Regions from separate parts of the Homo sapiens genome. Here all the other regions are reported to be linked to region 2. The links are microRNA targets in miRTarBase. Many come from high-throughput screens and were not tested one by one. Region 2 holds a microRNA gene; each other region holds the end of a gene's coding sequence.

What was found. The annotated mature microRNA hsa-miR-1-3p reads UGGAAUGUAAAGAAGUAUGUAU and lies in region 2 at 3,350-3,371, shown strand. An mRNA with a match to its seed (bases 2 to 7 or 8) in the 3' UTR can be bound and repressed. Matches are read on the target gene's strand: a 7mer-m8 pairs with bases 2 to 8, a 7mer-A1 pairs with bases 2 to 7 and ends in A, and an 8mer does both.
Region 1: the mRNA of PSG9 is a reported target of hsa-miR-1-3p. The part of its 3' UTR that is shown has no 7-base or 8-base seed match.
Region 3: miRTarBase lists OAT as a target of hsa-miR-1-3p. Seed matches in the 3' UTR shown: 8mer at 5,797-5,804 and 7mer-m8 at 5,339-5,345.

Annotation. Positions count from the first base shown.
Region 1 is chr19:43,247,169-43,254,268 of GRCh38, forward strand. PSG9 (pregnancy specific beta-1-glycoprotein 9) reads right to left here. Exons shown (of 6, transcript NM_002784.5): 6 at 6,114-6,478. The coding sequence ends at 6,441. LOC284344 (a long non-coding RNA gene) reads right to left here and starts at 1,478. Exons shown (of 9, transcript NR_033888.1): 1 at 1,323-1,478; 2 at 840-955. RefSeq lists an enhancer at 2,689-3,189.
Region 2 is chr20:62,551,002-62,558,117 of GRCh38, forward strand. MIR1-1 (microRNA 1-1) reads left to right here and starts at 3,305; the gene lies at 3,305-3,375. CRMA (cardiomyocyte maturation associated lncRNA) reads right to left here and starts at 560. Exons shown (of 7, transcript NR_033263.1): 1 at 425-560. MIR1-1HG (MIR1-1 host gene) reads left to right here. Exons shown (of 4, transcript NR_171007.1): 1 at 1-37; 2 at 2,464-2,664. RefSeq lists enhancers at 1-414, 5,719-6,590.
Region 3 is chr10:124,392,057-124,399,156 of GRCh38, forward strand. OAT (ornithine aminotransferase) reads right to left here. Exons shown (of 10, transcript NM_000274.4): 10 at 5,247-6,046. The coding sequence ends at 5,886. Among named protein-coding and RNA genes, the nearest start is that of OAT, 23 kb to the right of the region's middle.

The DNA of each region.
Region 1 (7,100 bases), not on the chromosome of region 2:
TCCAGTTTTTCTGTTCTGTTTTTTCCCCATCTTTGTGGTTTTATCTATTTTTGGTCTTTGATGATGGTGATGTACAGTTGGGTTTTTGGTGTGGATGTCCTTTCTGTTAGTTAGTTTTCCTTCTAACAGACAGGACCCTCAGCTGCAGGTCTGTTGGAGTACCCTGCCACGTGAGGTGTCAGTGTGCCCCTGCTGGGGGGTGCCTCCCAGTTAGGCTGCTTGGGGGTCAGGGGTCAGGGACCCACTTGAGGAGGCAGTCTGCCCATTCTCAGATCTCCAGCTGCGTACTGGAAGAACCACTGCTCTCTTCAAAGCTGTCAGACAGGGACATTTAAGTCTGCAGAGGTTACTGCTGTCTTTTTGTTTGTCTGTGCCCTGCCCCCAGAGGTGGAGCCTACAGAGGCAGGCAGGCCTCCTTGAGCTATGGTGGGCTCCACCCAGTTCCCTCTTCCAGGCTGCTTTGTTTACCTAAGCAAGCCTGGGCAATGGAGGGCGCCCCTCCCCCAGCCTCGCTGCCGCCTTGCAGTTTGATCTCAGACTGCTGTGCTAGCAATCAGCGAGACTCTGTGGGCATAGGACCCTCCGAACCAGGTGTGGGATATAATCTCGTGGTGCGCCCTTTTTTAAGCCCGTCGGAAAAGCCCAGTATTCGGGTAGGAGTGACCCGATTTTCCAGGTGCCATCTGTCACCCCTTTCTTTGACTAGGAAAGGGAACTCCCTGACCCCTTGTGCTTCCTGAGTGAGGCAATGCCTCACCCTGATTCGGCTCGTGCACGGTGCATGCACCCACTGTCCTGCGCCCACTGTCTTGCACTCCCTAGTGAGATGAACCCGGTACCTCAGATGGAAATGCAGACATCACCCATCTTCTGTGTCACTCACGCTGGGAACTGTAGACCAGAGCTGTTCCTATTCGGCCATCTTGGCTCCTTCCCCAGTTGTTTTTTTTTTAATCTGTAAAAACGGGGATGGTGGCACTTGGGATTTTTTTTTTTTTTTTTTTTTGAGACGGAGTCTCGCTGTGTCTCCCAGGTTGGAGTGCAGTGGCGCGATCTCGGCTCACTGCAAGCTCCGCCTCCCAGGTTCATGCCATTCTCCTGCCTCAGCCTCCCAAGTAGCTGGGACTACAGGCGCCCGCCAACACGCCCGGCTAATTTTTTGTATTTTTAGTAGAAACGGGGTTTCACCGTGTTAGCCAAGATGGTCTCGATCTCCTGACCTAGTGATCCGCCCGTCTCGGCCTCCCAAAGTGCTAGGATTACAGGCATGAGCCACCGCGCCCGGCCCGCACTTGGGATTTTTTGGTGAGGACTGTAGTTACCTGGAAAGGCCTTAGGATAGTGCCTGGTACATAGTGAGTGCTGCATCAGTGTGAGCTATTATAATTATGGGAATAGACAAAGGTGCCACCCTGGCCATCCAGAGTGGGGAGGTATTTTCCAGTCAGGGTCCAGGCAGGCCAGCTGGAGATGAAGCTGATTAGTGGGGAAGCTTAACTTCCAGGAGTGGAAGAATTTAGGAGGAGTAAACAGAATGCACAACATTCTGTAAACATTCCTTTACCCAACAGTAGGAATGCTCATAGTGGGTGTGGCTTCCGTGACAATCATTATCTCTTGGGAATTTAAGAATGTGTCCTAGAGTCAAATGGCTTTGATGTAAGCCAAACCCAGAAATGGGCTTCAGGTCTGCCTTACACATAGCATTCATTCATCTTGAAAAAGGAAAGCATTCATCTTGCTAAAGGAATCCCCTCTTCTGGCCCAGGTCATTATTTTTGTTTTTGTACTGTCCTAATTTTTAAGGTGTAAGGAGAAAGACCAAAGAATAAAATAATGAAGTACATGTATGAAATAACAGGGTAGAATTGAGACTGGTACGTGTAAGTTAAGAGAAATTGTGTATAAATTTTGTGTGAATAGAAAAAGGATTTCTTGTTGCAAACAGACCTCTCTATATAAATAATACCCATTGCCTTCAGTGGATAGCAGACTGCATCACAAGAACATTCCAGCAGAGTCACGAGAGAATGGGTAGTGTGGCTTCTGTAATTGGCAGGTTAGACAGAGTAAGTTACTGAAGAGAAAGGAGTTGAAGGAGAAGATGGGTGAGGGCAAGAAAAATGGGAAGGTGAAAGGAAAGAACTGAAAGGAATGTTTACCAAGGGCTCATCAGGTACCAGGCTCTGTGATTAATGTCTCACACATGTTAATTTACTCTTCCACTGTCATTTTCTGATGCAGTAAGAGTCAGTCTTACACTGCAGATGAGGAAAGAGGCTGAAGGAGGTCAAACGAGTGGCCCAGGGTCATCCAGCCACTTCATAGCAGAGCTAGTGTGTTTCACTGTGGTTTGCGCAGACAGAAAAGTGAGACATGGAAGGAAGGCAAAACATTTTTCTTGTCGGTGATGTTTATGAAAGTGACCTGTATGAGGCAGAATAATGGCCTCTTAAAAATGTCCACATCCAGGTCGGGTGCGGTGGCTCACGCCTGTAATCCCAGCACTTTGGGAGGCTGAGATGGGCAGACCACGAGGTCAGGAGTTCGAGACCAGCCTGGCCAACATGGTGAAACCCCGTTTCTACTAAAAATGCAAAAATTAGCTGGGTGTGGTGGCGGGCGCCTGTAATGCCAGCTACTTGGGAGGCTGAGGCAGGAAAGTCATTTGAACCTGCGAGGCGGAGATTGCAGTGAGCCCAGATTGTCCCACTGTACTCCAGCCGGGGCAACATGAGTGAAACTCTGTCTCAAAAAAAAAAAAAAAATCCACATCCTAACTCTTGGAACACATTTACTTGGAATGCATTTACTTTTCTTGGCAAAAACACTGTTCAAAGTTGATGAAGTTGAGTATTTTGAGATGGAAAGCTTATTCTGGCTTATCTGGGTGGCTCCCTGTATCATCATAAGGGTCCTTGTGAGTGAAAGAGGAAGGCAGGAGGGTCAGGGTGAGAATGATGCAGTCTGAGAGACTCCACTGGCCATTGCTTCCTGTGAACATGTGTGATAAGACAAAATTACAACTAATTTAGTTATAGATGTAATTGGCTTTTATTTGTGATTTATGATTTGGGGCAGCTCTCCCTCTACAGATGCTTCAGCATCCCAAGTAGCTGGGACTATATTGCAGGATCTGGCCAGCAGCCTGCAATGCAACGGGGCTCTTTCTTTGTTCCCAGGCAGATTGGCAGGTTGAGAAATAAAAGACACACACAAGATAGTGAAAGCTGGGTCCAGAGGGGTCACTGCCTTCTGGTCCTGCGATGCTGCCAATGCACTGGATATACCAGCATTTATTATTAAGTTTAGTGAGAGTGGGGGTAGGTTAGTGAGGGATTTAGGGTCATTTATAGGCTCTCCGTAAGGGTCACATTCCATTCCCAGAGCTATGGACATCTGCTTTTCTGGGATAGGAATCTTGGTAATGTGAAACCTCCCTGACTGCATGTCCGTTCATAGGCTCTCTGCAGGGGGAAGCACATCACGTGCTGTTGGCTCATTCTGGCAGTCCAACCTGGCATTTGTCTTTACACAATCCTGCATGCAACTTTGTATTTACAATAATCAGGAGCATTTCATCTTTCATTCCGTAGCAATAGTTCAGGGGTTCTCCCTACATCTCTGCTTTTCTCTGATTTAAATGAACCATAGCAATCATAGCTTGGCACTGATCACAATTGGATTGAAGAACATTTTTTCCAATTTTACACATGAACAATAAACCAACAGCACAAATTATACACAGAACAAAATTAACGATAGTGGATCCTCCCAAAGATTTTACCTATTGAATGGGGTTGAGATTAGATAACCCCTCAGAGATACTGTCTAAAACTTCAGCACTGGGTAAAGCAGTTAAGTGTGCTTGAGAAGCTTCAAAAATCTGTTCTTTCAGCTTGCTTATGTCTAAACTTAAATTATCTTCACTTCCTTGTAAATGGCATATTACTGATTCCCGATTGTGACCAGACTCTTTATATTGGAACAGAGTTTTACAAAAATCAGAAGTGTTCCAATCAGGTTGCATTTGTAATCTATGTTCTAAACTCATAATTCTATCTCCCATCCATGTAACAGAAGCACATCCCGTGCTGTAGGCTCATTCTCGCAGCCCAACCTGTCATTGTGTTTACACAATCCTGCGTGCAATTTTGTATTTACAATAATCAAGAGCATTTCATCTTTTATTCTGTAGCAGTAGTTTCTGGGGGTCTCCCTACAGGACTGCAGGTGCACGCCACCATGCCTGGCTAATTTTTGTATTTTTAGTAGAGACAGGGTTTCACCATATTGATCAGGCTGATCTTGAACTCCTGACCTTGTGATCTGCCTGCCTTGGCCTCCCAAAGTGCTGGGATTACAGATGTGAGCCACTGCACCCAGCCCATAAATCACACATTTCTTTGAGTTTTTGTAATTCCAGCACAAGAGAAACCGTTTGATATTTGAAGAATGGCTGCACACAAATATTTGCACAGAAATAAAAACATCTGTAGATTCCACCACATGAGGGAGAATACCAGTATGACTATCAGGAGGAAAATATCAAGAGTTTGGAATATGCACCTTAGGCAAGATGCAAACCAACTACAATAGGATAGATCAAAGAAGAAGCCAGAAGAGTCTAGTCATTTTAACCAGGCAGCACATTTATTGATTTTTACAACTGAGTCTCTATAATACCCGATGTATTTATCCATGTGCAACAAGAAGTGTCAGAAACTGCACAGACTCCCCGCTGTCCAGCTGGTAGAGAACAATTCTATTATCTAGCATTGCATGTCTATGTTAAATTAAAACAGGGAGTGAGAATAGGCAAGTATAGAAGTGGAAGCCTAAAAAAAACTCCATACATTTGAGGAAAAAGTTGTGTTACAGATGCAGCTAACGTCAGCCTTTGTGTGGACTAAAGGATGTCTTGTTATGTAAAAATGTGTGGGCTGGGTGCGGTGGCTCATGCCTGTAATCCCAGCACTTTGGGAGGCTGAGGCATGCAGATCATCTGAGGTCAGGAGTTCGAGAACAGCCTGACCAACATGGAGAAATCCTGTCTCTACTGAAAATACAAAATTAGCTGGGCATGGTGGTGCATGCCTGTAATCCCAGCTACTGGGGAGGCTGAAGCAGGAGAATCACTTGAACCCAGGAGGTGGAGGTTGCTGTGAGCCAAGATTGTGCCATTGCACTCCAGCATGGGCAACAAGAGCGAAACTCCATCTTAAAAAAAAAAAAACGAAGTGTGGTTGACATGATATATCTGACACTGTTAACTTACTCTCAGAGGCTATTTCTGGTGAAATCCTAAGTACAGCATTATTCTGGGAAGCAAAGGAGACAGGCAAAAGCAAAGACAAATTAAGAGAGGTAAGAGTCTCATCATGACTGATAGTCTTGTTCTGACATCTTGAGAAAAGCTGTCCACAGTGTAAAGTCATCAGCTTGTCGTGGTTTGCAGTTTGAGTGTCTCTAAGTTATGGTGTTGAACATTTGGTGAGCTCTTAGTGGCCCCCACCTCAAACACGAGGGTTTTCCCATGAAATTTACATTGAGTTGTCCACCTCCACCTTATATGGCTTCAGGAACAGAGCCGCTCTTGTTCTTAATGATTTCATTGGAGAAAACTGAATTGGAAGAACTAAAAGAATTCAGGGTCCAGTCCAGTCTACCAGTGGATTATAAATACTCAAAGATAATGAACAGTGGTTCAATCTGGTAACAGGTGTACTACAGTTTTTCTTTTCAGCTAGTTTTTCTCTCTATCGGAGTCTCTATTTTTACCAAAGATAATTCCAATAAGATGAATTTGCTTGCAAAATAGGTTGAGTCTCACCGAACTTGCCCAGATTTTTTACCTAAGTGCGGCAAGAGTAGCAATGGACCATAGAGGCTCTTTTTAAACTTCTCTTTGCTAGAAGTTTTTAATAAGAATCTCAGATGAAACTTCCAAAAACCTCTTGAGACTAGGAAGCCAAACCAAGGCCCACTTCAGACTTTGCCTGCATTCCCTATGGGTTTATTCTATGTATATTCTCAAATATAACATCCCAGTCAAAGCCTTGGTAATATAACCAATGTTTTCAAATGTGTCCTGTTATAAAGAGAGCAGATTCTTACGGAACATGTGCAAATAACTTTATTACCATAAACCTATGAATACTCATGAATAGTTTCACAATTCTGGGGCATTCAGATAGACAGCAAAAGCAAATATTTCAATTTTTGTTTACAAAAGTATACTTTACCAATTGCTGAAGAAAAAAAGTTCATAAATCTGGAGAATAAAACATTCAAAGAATCAGCACATTTTCCAATAAAAAATTATGAAAACATTATCCTTTTGATTATTTAGTCCAATAACATTGAGTTTTTTTCTTCTTTGTCTTGAATTTCATGAAGGTATCAGCCTGTTCTTTTTCTCAGTGTCTCAGTTGTTGCAGTCATGACTGAGACTCTGTCAGGTCTCCATGGCAGGGACCTGATTGACAGAAGGCCCAGGTCAGTGCATTTCAAATTCACTACCTCCTTTACACAGAAAGCTTCTTTCCTACAGGCTCCCAGGAAGGGTGTGAAAGCAAGCCTAGTTCTCTGAGGCTCTATTTAACTCTAATGGGTGGCTGGTTGGAGGATTCCCCATCAGCCTTGCAAATACTCTTAGAACTGCATTGGTACCTAAAACTTCTTTCTCTTTCTTTTTCACAGGAATCAGCTCTGCATAGTGTTCTGTGGGTTCTCCCATACTACCTTCATGCCTGCTCCACATTCCCTCACAGGTGTCTTCCCTGATAAATTACCTTGTATGTCTAATCCCATCTTGGATGCATCTCAGTTGGTAAAAACTAACATACCAGACTTGATTCTTTGCCCTTAGCTTTTTTTTTCTCTCCCACAAGTAGTCAGTAACCATGTCCTAGTGTTTTATGTGTTACCTCTTTTTCCATATATATGGAAAAAGGTAGGTACTGTTGAGGTGCACTTCCTATGTGCCAGGCCCTGTGCTCAATACTTTACCTGTATCTCATTTAAGCCACACAATAACCCTGTCACATAGACATTATTTCCATTTTGCCGATGAAAAGACAGAAGCTTAGCATGGTGTA
Region 2 (7,116 bases):
TCACCAGCCCGGCCCCAGGGGTGCCCTGGGCTCCGCGGTGAGTCCTGCTCAGCCCATCACCACCGCTGGGCCGCCGGGACGGCCCCTGCAAACTTGCCGGGCACCGCGGTGGGGGGTGTGCCTGCCAGCGAGGTGGGTGCTGCGGGTGCCGGCGCCGTGCGGCTCCGGCGGGGGTGCCGTGGAGTTTTCTCTTGGCTCGCGGCATCATCCACATTTGGAAAACTGCAGAGCCAGCAGCCGGCAGGGCCTGGAGGGCGCGTCCAGCTGGGAGGCAGGAACTTTGACTTGCGGGCATTTTGCAAGAAAGCAGCGGCCCCCCACGCGGGCAGTGGATGGCATGGGGGCTTCGGGGCTGGGCTGGGGGCGCGATTCACCTGCCGCTCCGCAACAAAGCCCCGGCAGCCGGGCGTGGGGCTAAACTTACCTTGAACTTGCAGTATCCCCCACTGAGGTGCTGGTGGGGGGCAGGGATTCCCGAGCTGAGCGGCGGCGAGGCTGCCCCCGGCCGGGACTCGGCACTTCTGCAGCTCTCCCAGCCACGTCAGGGTCAGGAGGCGTTTACAGGGGCAGGGCGGCGAGGTGGGGGGCGGGGGGCACATGTGGGCGGAGACTAGGGGGGCTTCGGGGAGAGCAGCCCTGGTGGTCGGCGTCTGTGCAGGTCCCTGCTGGGGAGCTTGACTTCCCGCGTGGCCTCCCGCGGCGCTGATGCCGGGGGCCGGGCGGTATTCACCGCTGAAGAGCCCCGGAGGAGGCCCCGGGCACAGGAGCCAGCTCGGCTCACGGTGGGGTCTGCTTGGAGGCGGCTGGGTGCTCTTTTTCTATGCAGACGGGAAACTTTTTGAAAAGTGACTACAATTCATTTGTGAGTGGGCAGAAGTCCTGTGGACTCTGGCTGGGTCTGGGGTGACTCTCCTGCCCTTTGGGACTCCCAGCTTTCCCCTTGACCCCCAGACCCCGTCCAGATGAATGCCTCACAGGTCGTGGGGGCTTGAGCCAGGCTGCGGGAGTGTCCCAGGCTCTGAGAGCTCATGTGCCAGGGAGCTGGGGACGTTGAGGAGGCCTTTTCCCTGGACTCCGGGGACGGTTATTGCGGAGGTCTTGGGAGGGCACAGATGAGCGGCGGAACCCAGGTGCCCCCGAAGTTGAAGCTCAGGCTGCGGTGTCGGGTGCCCTTTTTGTATCCTTGGCTACGTGAAAATGATAAATCACAGCAGCTACGTGGAAATGGGACATCAGCTTCTGCTTCTGTCTGCCATTTGCTCCTTCCTTTGTAGAGGGGATGCCTCCAGAGCCTTAAGCACAACCCCCACCCCCCGCCCCCACCCACCCCCACGTGAAACTCCAACCCAGCCATGCCCAGCTGCAGACCCACTGCCACACAGCCACAGCATGCTCAGTGGCCTCTGCACACTGCAGGCTCTGCGGAGACATTGCCCTGCCCTGGGTGGTAAGAGAGAACCAACTCGCTCCGGGCTGTCCCCTCGCATGGACGGGCTGCCTGGAGGAGCAACAGAGTCATGTTGGACCTCTCTTCCTGATGAGGACAACGGGAGGTCCTTTCATGTCCCGGGGCTGCTGTCCCACCCCACGCCAGGGTCAGTGGCAGGACAGGGGCCAGGGCCCAGCTGGACCCCACCGCTTAGCAAGCCTCCTGTGTCTGTGCCCGGCCTGCACCCCCAACTGGCGCCTCCCTGGCCCCCGTCCCCCCCAGGCACCTGCAAAGCCTTCTTTCCACCTCTCACCACCGCACGTGCCAGGCTCGCCCTGGGCCACTGCGAGGCCTCGAAACCCTGCAGGCCTCCTCCTCCTCCTCCTCCTCCTCTCCCCGCTCCCAGCAGGTTCGGGGCGGCTTCCCTTCCTGCTGGTGAGGGCCTAACCTTGAGGTCCCATTGGTCTCCTTCTGGCTCTTTCTCCACATTTTTCAGAGTCTGGCTTCACGGCTGGTCATAGAAGTTGGCAGGGAAGGAGGCAGCCTCTGCTTCCCACTCAGAGACATTTTTAAACGCAATGAAAAACATATCGATACAATTAAGTATTCCAAAGTGCTTAGTTTGCCACTCGCTAAGTTTACTTAAACCCTCTTTAACAGGCTCATTAGGAGCTGGTGAGCACCGGGAAATTCATTAACAGGAAGGCGGCCCCCTGCATTTGACTGTAAATTGGTATTGATCAGGGGCTGGTGGAGGCTGGGCGGCTGGCCACAAAGAGCCAGGTGTGGGACCAGCCTCCCGGGGGTGCCACGGCAGTGGCGCTGGGCAGGTGACGGTGGCTGCTGACCCCCGGTGCCCATGTAAGCTGCTGGCTCTGCGCAGCTGCCGCTTCAGGTGGGCCGCACTGCGCGGCGGTTCAGGGTGGTGACGCTGCGAGGCGGGGACGGGGGAGAGGGTGAAGAAGAGCGAGAGAAGGAGGGAGAGAACCGGGGGAGCGACGCTCCCTCGCCCACTGGGTGTCTGCTGTGGCCAGGCTGAGGCACCTAGGGAGTTGCCCCCCTAGTGGACGGCCTCTCAGGAGATCCTGACCACCCTCTGGGAACCTGGACTCCTCCAAGCATCGTCTTTCTCGCCTGCATCTTCGGAGAGAGGTGCTGAGCCCTTCCTCATGGATACGGGGTCCCGGGAGGCAGCCTTCACCAGGGACCTGCCCAGGAAACCAGCAGATGCCCAGGTAAGCCCCCAGGACACCTCTCGGGTCTCTGGTCTGCAGTTCCTCGTCTGGCCTCAGGAGCAAGGAGTTGTCCAGCTCCCGGAGAAGGAGGAGGCTGGTCCTGCGAGTGGGGTGCTGGGCAGGGCGCCCCCCAAGGTTCCTCTCTCCACCCAGCCCTCTCTGGGCTTGGCTGGGATGAGGTGACCCAGGGGGACAGGAAAGTGTTGGCTTTGAAAGTTTGGGACATGGATGATGCCTCCCTGCTCTGGGGTGAGGGTGGAGGGGCAGCCTGTCTCTTCCATGGACGCAAAACCGAGCTACTGCTGGGGCCAGGGACAGGCGCTCGAGACTTTCTGGGGCTCACTGTCCACTTCTGCCTTTCTGGATCGTGTGAGTGTGTGAGACAGACAGAGAGAGATGGATTCAGGGATGGAGGGGCGCCGAGGTCAGAAGGGGGCAGGGAGTCCTGGGCCCCTGGGGGTGGCTGGACACCAGGCAGCAGTGGCAGGAAGGCTGTCCTGCTCACACAGAGAGGGCTCCGGCAGTAGACTCCAGGGAAGAAGTTACACTGCCTCTGAGCTGCCTTCTCTACATCGCAGTGGGGTCAGCTTCTACCGGGGCGGCGTCCCGGGGTCTTGGAACTGCATGCAGACTGCCTGCTTGGGAAACATACTTCTTTATATGCCCATATGGACCTGCTAAGCTATGGAATGTAAAGAAGTATGTATCTCAGGCCGGGACCTCTCTCGCCGCACTGAGGGGCACTCCACACCACGGGGGCCGCCGCGGCCGACAGCCAGCCAGGCGGCTGTGGTGGGGGTGAGGCTGGGGCGGCAGGCTGCCTGGGCGTTGGTGGACGGTCGTGTCCCCGCCAGCATTGTTCTGTCACTTTGCCTGTGTCAGCAGGTGGAAGTGCTCACCAGACATTAAATATTCAGCTTGCTGACTGCGGCAGAGGGGAGGCGGCCTCCGGCAGGCGCGGGGTCCAGCGCGGGGCTGGTGAGGGCTGGGGGGTCGGGGCCGTGGCTGGAAAGCACGGAGTGGTGGCGGCGGCTCTGGGGGCTCCACTGATGGCCATCCTGGAAGAGGCCATCAGCCGGCAGAAAGGGCCACGTGTGGCCAGGGCAGAAACTGCTCAGAGGCACAAGACAAGAGCGAGTTTGGAAAAGGGCAGGTGGCTGGATGCAGAAAGGAGGGAGAGGCTGGGCAGCACATGGTAGAGTCTGCGGAGGGAAGGCACCTCCTGCACCTGCATCCAGCCCTCCCGGCTGTAGGGCAAGGCAGAGGAACTCGGAGGCATGTAGCCTCCAAGGAAGGCGCAGCCCACACGAGATGCTGGGGACGCGGGCAGGGTCAGGGCCACCACTGCCCTTAGGCCCCACTCCTCTGCCGAGGGCACCTGGGACAGGGTCAGAGGAGCTGAGTCTGTGCAGCCCTGAACCCACAGCCCACCCCAGGGGCCTGGGAGCCGTTCGATTTTGCCAAATGTCTGGTTCATGCCGCCCCAACCTGTACCCCCACCAAAGCCCCGGTTCAGCTTTCTCTCTGTTCCGCCGAATCCAACCTGAGGCATGTTTTGCTGTGAATGCAGGTGAGGCTTTGGCAGAAAGCAGCGTGTGGCCCAGGGCCCCTTGCCCCACCTGTCGGGGGCCTGAGAGCCATCTGCTCTGCCGCCATCCCAGTCCTGACCCGAGAAAGGACTGGGAGGATGTCCTGGGGCCCAGGGGATGAGGGCAGGTCCGGATCCGTCCGTGAAACCCTTTTCCCCAGTGCTGGTCCTTCAAGGAGAGGATGGGCGGCGGGTTCTGGGGTCTTAGGCAGCGGCTGGGCTGCTGTGTGAGGGGCGTTTGCCCGGCTCGTTTCTGAGTCTCAGATTGGAGGCGTTTGCCACCTGGGATGAGGCCAGGTCCCTGCCTGGGCACCCCCACCCTGCCACAGGCCTCAGGATTAATTTCTGGGGTGTGTGTCCTCTCTGCCTTGGCACTGCTCCAGCCACAGCGGTGCCCCTGTGCCCTACCTCCCGCACCCTGGCCTTCGGCAGGAATGAGGCGGGAAGGGACAGGCAGGCAGCCCCCTCCTGCAGCGGCTGGAGGCCTTGGGTCTGGGGGCAGCCAGGTCACCTGAGCAGCTGGGGCCAGCATAGGGAGCGCTGGATAAAGGGATTGGGGGCCGTTCTGAGCTTTCAGGTGGCTCCCACCCCTCAGGGAGCCTCGAGGTGACTGGAGGGGAGGGCCTGGCAGTCAGGGCTCCTGGCCTTCAGGTCTTCCTTCTGGAAACTTCGTTCTCCCAGCCTCAGCCCCATCTGGCGTAGCAGCAAGGGGGCGGGTGTTGACCTCGGGCACAGCCTCCTCTCGGCCTCTGGACCCGGAGGGTCAGTGCCCAGCATCCGCTGACGTCATCTCTTCCCTGCCTGCTCCCAGCTCCGGCCACAGGGAGGGAAGTAGCCGGGCGTGTGGCCACCGAGGCTGCCGGTGGCCACAGACACACCGTTCTTTTCCCCTAGATGCGGCTGTTGTACATTAAAGCTTTATTGCAGGATGTGGTGTTTAAATAAAAGCATTAGTGTTTTGGAATTAGGTTTGACTGAGCAGTAAAACTGGAGAGTTCACAGGGAGAGAGCTGCGGCCTGCTTGGCGGTAAATCACCTCCAGTCTCTGATCTGCTGAATTAAAAATGAGCATTGCACGGACACCGCCCATGGCAGCCCGAGCCCCTCTCCCCTGCACGTGTGGCCTGATGGTGCTCCCTGGGGATCCTGCTGCTTTCCTGGAGACACTGGGACCCGGGGCTGGAGTCTCCCATGCGTGAATCTCTAAAGCTTGGCTCCCGGGCAGCAGCCAGGACGGGAACCCCAAACTGGCGTGGGGCATGGACACGCTGGGACTTTCCCCTGTGGGGGTCTTTGTGCCTGTCCGTTTGAAGGAGGGGAGAGCAGGCAGGGCGGGGGCACAGACCCTCACTGGCTATGTCTTGCCCGCAGGGACTCTCCTGAGACGGCTTAGGCACGCTACCATGGGGGCCGGGACTCTCAGAGGGAAATGAGCCTGGACTGGGCTGAGGGGGCTGGACATGGGACACCCACCCCCTCGCCTGCCAGCTCGGGAACCCAGGTGGGTTTGTGTGGCCATGAGGAGGTGGCCAGTGCCGGTGTCTCTCACTCCCTAGAGCAGGTAGCACCAGGTGTAGGCTTCTGGGTTTCCCAGAACACTCTGGAAACTGCCCCACGGTGATCAGAGGCTGGGCCAGGCTCCCGCTCGTGGAAACAGCCGCTGCAGAAATTGTGGAGCTCATAAATTCAGCGGACCAAATTAGTTACCTTTTTCTATCCTATGGCTCACAAAAGCTAGCTATGCTCCAGGCACTGTTTCCACCCGTGAGTGAGACCGGCTCTGGGTCCTGGAGCTTGCACGCAGGAGAAGGACGGTCTTTGGGAAGGGACGGCCCCGCTGCTGTGCCTGCACGCGTGTGTCACGATGAGTGGTCTTGCATTTCTGCAGCCAGGGGGCCGAGGACATAGTGGCACCCCCTTCTAAAGAGGGGGCCTTTGGTGATTCTGGCTTAGTAGTGCATTCAAGTGCAATACAGTGTTTTATTGCACAAGCATTCAAAGCAGGCGCAGCGGCTGGTGAGAGCATTCGCGAGAGGTGCGTCGGCAGTCTCTGTGAAACTGTCGGGCTCACATGGGGAACGTTGCGTCGAAGAATAAACTGCTATCAAGCATGATTAGATTGACCCACAGGACAGATATTTTAGATGCCGCAGCCGGAGTCAATCAAAATGAACATCACTCGAATTGCAAATTTTACCCAAAAAATGCTCTAAAGTAAAAATGAGAGAACCTGAGTGGCCCGAGCCATCTTCAGGGCCAGGGCGTGGCTGGGCAGTGCTGGCCTGAAGGGTTTCTGGGCAGGGATGGCCAGAGGTGGGCGGGGCGGTGCAATGCCGTGAGTCGCTGCCACCTTCGCATGAAGGGTAACCCAGCAACCTGAGGGATTTTGTGCTGACTCAGCCCCGCCGTGCACGTCCGACTGCAGAGGCCTCCCGTGCTCTCTGCAGCCCTGCTCCTGCCTTTGATGCCCCCGGGCAGGATGCTGACCTCGGGGTGGCTGGGCTTGGGCCCCAGCAAGGGAGGCTCTTGGACAGGAGCACAGGGCTTTGTGAGGGGCCCTGGCCTTGCCCACTGTCCTTGGCCAACCAGCAGCCTCTGTCCCTGTGAACTGGAGGCATCGCACCCAGGAAGAGCTGGGCATGGCTTTTGGGAAGGGAAGGCACCCGCAGACAGTATCAGCAGCTCCCAGAGCCTCGTGCTGTCTGCTCCTTCCTGAGGTCCCAGGCCCAGCTGGCCAGAGCTTGGGGCTGGGAGGGCCCTCCCCGGAGGCCCCTGGGTGCCCAGGGAGGACTCTGCCTTTGGGGAGGACTCTGCCTTTAGTGCTCAGAGTCCCCAGCCGGCTCTGACCCCTGGAAGCCCGTCCT
Region 3 (7,100 bases), not on the chromosome of region 2:
TGCTGGGAACTTCACAGTCCTAGTGCTTGAAACGCATTGTCACTTTCACCTCTGTTATTCTGGGTACATCAGATGTCCTATCCCAACCTCAGTTTTCTTATATGTGCAGTAATTAATTTAGATGAGGTATTCTGGAAGGTCAGAATCCAAAGAACAAGTTATCATTAGGGGGTGTGGAGAGTGAAGGTGGTGACTATTTAAAGTGCAAAAATGTACCAAGATTATCATCTTTCTTTTGCACATATCTAAATGTGCATCTGGGCACCACATACTCTGTGAGTTCTCCTCTACTTTGAACCACTCCTCCCCGAAGAAGAAAAATAACTTTTTACCTGAAGAATGTGAGCCCCTTTAAATTATCAGGCCCAGAAAAGTATCTAAAATATAATGGCAGTCAGGTCTCACTCCCCCTTGAGCTAAATAATTACCTCTCGAAGCCCCTTGCCATGCAGCTCTAGACTAACTGAAGCCAAATGGCCACAAAAACGCCATACATCCTGTACTTCAACAATGAATAGCCAATCAGTAACTAATGCCAATTCTCTAGACCAATGAAAATTCCTAATAAATAAGTTTTATAATCACCCCTTCTCCTGATTTTTTTTTCTTTATAAATATTCTCCAGAGCACTCCCCAAGGCAAACTGATGATGTATCCTGGGCTGCAGTTCTCAAGCTTGGCCCAAATGAGAAGATTTTTCTCGGCCCCTTTGCCAGGCACGCAGCAGGAGGCACCCCATCTACTGGGCCTGCCAGGCCGCATCTGGCTTGCACTCCGGCGCAGATCCCACAGCAGCTGCTGCTGCATGCTCAGGCCCTGGTGGGAGGGGGTATGTGAGTGAGCAAGTGTGGGGTCCAGCCAGCCATTCCAAATGCTGGCACAGGGGTGGGCTCCATGCGGGGTTTGCAGCTGGACCAGGTGTGTCACTCCAAGGGGAATGCAGTGGTGCCCAGGCAGGGGTGCCCATGACCCTAAAGCCCCAAAAGAGTGTTACAATGTGCTCATTAGCTCTTTTAGTCCCACCATCCATAGCCCAACAGACGGTGGCATGTTAACAGCTCAGTCAGCCCCTTGCCCCATTCCAGCCCGCAGCTCCGGGGCCAGCTCCGCCCCATCACTACTTTCCATCACATGAGGCATCTGCCCTCTGCCAGTGAAGGGCAGAGGGCCACAGTGTTACAGCCTTGTGAGTACCCATGTTCAGTGAGTCTGGAGTTCTTGTCCGTCAAAGAAGAATGAGGTCACACTGGCAACTGAGGGGTGGTGAGGGCAGAGAAGTTTATTAAGCGACAAAACAGCTCTCAGCAGAGAGGAGACGGGAAGGTGGTCTCCTCCAGTGTGGCTGAGTCTGGGGTTTTTATAGGCACAGGATGGGGGAGGGGCAGGCCATAGGTAGTATCAGAAAAGGCAACATTCAACTGGTCAAAAAGCGTTATTCAGAAAGAACCAATCGGGAAAGAGTGGGCAAATAGGAACAGAAGTTCTCACTCTGGGTCACAGGTTTCATCCAGAACCAACAGTTCAGTCTTTCAGACTTCAGGCTGTTTTTGGCTTGAAGGTGGTGTTTCACTGGGGACCGCCCCTATCAGCCTAGGCATTTTGTCTGCCTCCTGCTATCATGAATAACTTTATGATTATTAATTTTGCCTCAGCTTCTTCCTTTAACTTGACATCCCCTTTGTGATACAGCCAGGCTATCAGCTCTACGCCATCTCTTCCTTATCTAGATGTCACCCTTATCTGAAAGAATCCTTCTCCCGAAGCTTCCTCTCTCCCAAACTCCTCCAACTGTATGTGTTGGGGGTGGGGAGGGGGAGCTAGCAACTTATTTATTGATCTGTAATTCTGTGCCAGGTCCTCCACCAGGAGCTTGACCTACTCCATCTTTTTTAATCCTCCTAACTCCCCTGAAAGGTAGATAGCATCCCACTTCCTCACAGCTAAGGAAAGGGAGTATCTAACCACAGCAGTTGCCCTGATGTTCTACCCCAAATCCAAAGCCTGTGTCTGACTCTCCCTGCCTCCCGCTTCACCACCCCTCCACTTCATCCCCAGGGCACTAAGTGCCGTCAGCAGGTTCCTGCCCACCTGTTCACCACTGGACATAGGCCCTGAGGCCCTACAACCAGTGTGTACTGCATGAGTAAGCCCTAAACCATCAGCCAGAAAGGATTTTCTTTTGTTTGTTCCTTTTTGAGACAGAGTTTCGCTCTGTTGCCCAGGCTGGAGCGCAATGGTGCAATCTCTGATCACTGCAACCTCTGCCTTCTAGGTTCAAGTGATTCTCCTGCCTCAGCCTCCCGAGTAGCTGGGATTACAGGAATGCACCACCACGCCTGGCTAATTTTTTGTATTTTTAGTGGAGATGGGGTTTCTCCACGTTGGTCAGGCTGGTCTCAAACTCCCGACCTCAGGTGATTCGCCCACCTCAGCCTCCCAAAGTGCTGGGATTACAGGCATGAGCCACCGCACCCAGCCTAGGATTTTCTAATAGGATCACGCCACGCCCCTGCTTCAACCCCTTTCTTCAGTGACCCCACTGCTCACCAAATTAAGCCCAAAGGCCCTCATTGTCATTGGCCACCGTCTCCACAACTCCCTGTACTTTCCTACCTCTGGGTCCTCTCTGACTTTTAAAGCCTTCAAAGAATTTAGCAGGAAGATAGCTTTGTTAAAAATCACCTGCCCTAAGGTCATCTCTGGTGAGAATAACTGAATGCAAATTAAACTGACTCATCATAATAATAGTATGTCCTAAGGCAACCTGCAAATGTGGAATCTCCAGTACACACACACAGAGAGAGACTGAATTAGAATCTGCATCTTAAGGCTGGGCACTGTGGTTCACACCTATAATCCCAGCACTTTGGGAGTCCAAGGCAGGTGGACCACTTGAGCTAAGGAGTTCAAGACCACCCTGGGAAACATGGCAAAACCCTGTCTCTACCAAAAATACAAACCAATTAGCCAAATCTGGTGGCACACGGCCATGGTCCTAGCTAGTAGAGAGGTTGAAGTGGGAGAATCGCTTGAGCCTGGGAGGTGGAAGTTGCAGTGAACCGAGATCATACCACTTCACTCCAACCTAGGTGACAGTGAGACTATGTCTCCAAAACAAAAATCTGCATCTTAATAAGATTCCTAAGACAGGTTCTCAACCTTGAATGCCCTGGAGAGCTTACCTGGCCTGGGTGCCACCCCAGTTGTAATTGGTATGAGGAGGCCTCCCAGTAACTGCTCACTCATTTAAACGTAGTCATTCAGTGACAGAGCACTACCCTGACAGAGTACCAAAGACTCAACTCTCATACTGCTAAGAGGTAACTTTTTAGAACCTGGGGGAGGCAGGGAGCAATGTGACACAATTAACTTGAGTTTTTTTTCTTTGAAAAGCAAGTCACTTCTAGGGATTTACTCCATAGAAACACTGTGCACTTTTGCACCATTGTGAAAAGATATGAAGTGGTCACAAGTTTTATTCAAGTCAAATGGTCCCAATATGAGATGAAATTACAGTATACCCATATATGATGAAATACTAATTATTTGAGAATAAGACGGAAAAACATCCAAAATACTCTGTTCAGGTAAAAAAAAAAAAAAAGAAAGAAAGAAAAAAGAAAAAGTTGCAGAACACCACATATAAAAAGGATAACTTTAAAAAAATGATAAATATTAGTATATGCACAGAGAACGCGCTACTTTGAAAGGGAAGTATGAGACCTATCTTTTAGATGTATTCTTTTTATAACTTCTAGTTTTCTGTAGATCAGAGTTGAAATGCTGTTAGAAAACACATGGAATATGCCGGGCACAGTGGCTCATACCTGTAATCCCAGCACTTTAGGAGGCCGAGGTGGGTGGATCACCTGAGGTCAGGAGTTCGAGACCAGCCTGACCAACATGGTGAAACCCCATCTGTACTAAAAATACAAAAATTAGCTGGGCATGGTGGTGTAGGCCTATTGTCCCAGCTACTTGGGAGGCTGAGGCACAAGAATCATTTGAACCTGGGAGGCGGAGGTTGCAGTGAGCTGAGATCACGCCATTGCATTCCAGCCTAGGCAACAGAGCAAGACTCTGTCTCAAAAAAAAAAAAGGAATACAAAAAAAAGAAAACACATGGAATAAATAAATCTCAAAAAGCTTAAAAATGTAACTGATAGGCTGGGCGCAGTGGCTCACGCCTGTAATCCCAGCACTTTGGGAGGCCGAGGCAGGTGGATCACAAAGTCAGGAGATCAAGACCATCCTGGCTAACACAGTGAAACCCCATCTCTACTAAAAATACAAAAAATTAGCCGGGCGTGGTGGCGGGCATCTATAGTCCTAGCTACTGGGGAGGCTGAGGCAGGAGAATGGCGTGAACACAGGACACGGAGCTTGCAGTGAGCCGAGATTGCGCCACTGCACTCCAGCCTGGGCAACAGAGCAAGACTCCATCTCAAAAAAAAAAAAAAATGTAACTGATAACACTGCAGTAATAGCATAGTGACATGGGGAATAAAGAAATCTTGTAACTGAAGAACGTGAGCCCCTTTAAATTATCAGGCCCAGGCCAGGCACAGGGGCTGATGCCTGTAATCCCAGCACTTTAGGAGGCCAAGTTGGGGGGATCGCCTGAGGCCAGAAGTTCAAGACCAGCCTGGTCAACTTAATGAAACCCTATCTTTACTAAAAATACTAAAATTAGCTGGGTGTGGTGGTGCACACCTGTAATCCCAGCTATTCGGGAGGCCGAGACAGGAGAATCATGTGAGCCCAGGAGGTGGAGGTTGCAGTGAGCTGAGATCGTGCCACTGCACTGCAGCCTGGGCGACAGAGAGAGACTCCATCTCAAAAAATAAAAACTAAATTATCAGGCCCAGAGAGGCAATAGAATGAAATCATAGTCAGGTCACTCTCTCCCAAGCTACATAATTACCTCTTGAAGCCAAGTATCTATCAAATGCCATATACCCTGTAGTTCAACAGCATATAGCCAATCACTAACCAAGGTTAGTTCTGTAAGCCAATGAGAATTCCTGATAAACAACTTTTGTAATCACCCCTTCACCTTGTGTCAGTAGAGGGTATAAGAGCAGCTGATCTATCCTTTTTTCTTTAAGAAGTGTTCTCTGGAGCACTCTCCAGGGCAACCTGGAAGTGTGTCCCGAGCTGCAGTCCCCAACCTTGGCCCACCTAAACATTCTATATTAATTTTGCCTCAGCTTCTTCCTTTTAAGGTGAATAATCATCACAAAACAGACATTTGAAATATAAGCTTTATTTTAAATTTAAAGAAGTATTGAAAATAAACATTTTTTACAAATTATAATCAAGCACTCAAAACAATTTAGGAATGTTAAACACTAATTCTTAATTCAAAATAATGACATCCATAGAATACAACCCTGGTGTTGGCCAATATGAAGTTTACTTAATATTAGTATTTTATATACACTTAACCATTAATCCTTCCTAAAATTCAATAACAATGATTTCACTTTATAAGATGAAGCCTTTTATGCAATACCCAGAGATAACTTTTTCAAATATGAAACACTTATACCAGTGAGGAAATTATAAAAACATATATCAATTATACTGAAGGACTTGATTTAGAGGCTGTCTGTATATAGATGCATTTCACCTTAGGAAGTACACATGCACATCAAAACACTTCAACTGAATATAGATGCCATTACATTATTTAGTTACGTTACAAAGCAAACGGCAGGTTCATAAACGTTGTTCTATTATGTATCAACTGAAAAAAATATATTCAAAAAAAAAGTTTTTGAAGACTCATGGGAGTGGAATGTGCCCACATTAGGAATAAAGCTTTTACAGGACCACCTGTCTCCAGCTGGCTCCCAGGGACCACTGAAAACAGCTGGCTACCCTCAGAAAGACAAGATGGTCTTGTTAATAATTTCAATGGACTCTCGAAGCTCATCCTCCTTGATCACCAGCGGAGGCGCAAACCTGATAATGTCGCCATGGGTTGGCTTGGCCAGAAGTCCATTATCTCGAAGTCGTAGACACACCTTCCAAGCATCCCAATCTAAAGAAAAATAGTAAAACGTACATGCTCAAAGATAAACGTTTAAACATCCCTTGCCGTATGTATGGGCAAAGTGCAGCCTGGCAAAACAAAATTAACAGAACTTGCTCAACTAAGGGAAGCTTGGGCTGGGAGCGGTGGCTTATGCCTGTAATCCCAGCACTTTGGGAGGCCGAGGTGGGTGGATCACGAGGTCAAGAGATTGAAACCATCCTGGCCAACATTATGAAACCCGTCTCTACTAAAAATACAAAAATTAGCTGGGCATCATGGTGCGCACCTGTAGTCCCAGCTACTCGGGAGACTGAGGCAGGAGAATCGCTTGAACCAGGAGGCGGAGGCTGCAGTGAGCGGAGATCGCGCCACTGCACTCCAGCCTGGTGACAGAGCAAGACACCGTCTCAAAAAAAAAAGAAAGGGAAGCTTGGAGCTGCAAGCTTGCTTTGTTTTTACTCCTAAAAATGAAGTTACTCTTCACTTTTCAGCAAGCACATAACTAGGTTTGAATGATATGATTAGACATATCATAGTTTTTCATAAATGAAAAAGACCAAGCCAAAAAAAAAAAAAAAAATGTGCTAAGGCTGCTGTATTAATCACACAAGGAACTAATGCAAAAGAACTTGGGTATAGGCTGGATGCAGTGGCTCACACCTGTAATCCCAGCACTTTGGGAGGCCGAGGTGGGCAGATCATGAGGTCAAGAGATCGAGACCATCCTGGCCAACATGGTGAAACCCCATCTCTAATAAAAATACAAAAATTAGCCTGTCGTGGTGTGGCACATGCCTGTAGTCCCAGCTACTCAGGAGGCTGAGGCAGGAGAATCGCTTGAACCCAGGAAGTGGAGGTCGCAGTGAGCCAAGATCATGCCACTGTACTCCAGCCTGGCGACAGACACTCCAGCCCAACAGAGCAAGGCACTGTCTCAAAAAATAAAATAAATAAAATAAATAAAATTCTAAAAAAGAAAAAAAAGAACTTGGGTATGATACAGATGATTAACTGACATAAAATGGGCAATACTCAAAACCCAGTGAACACTACACATTCC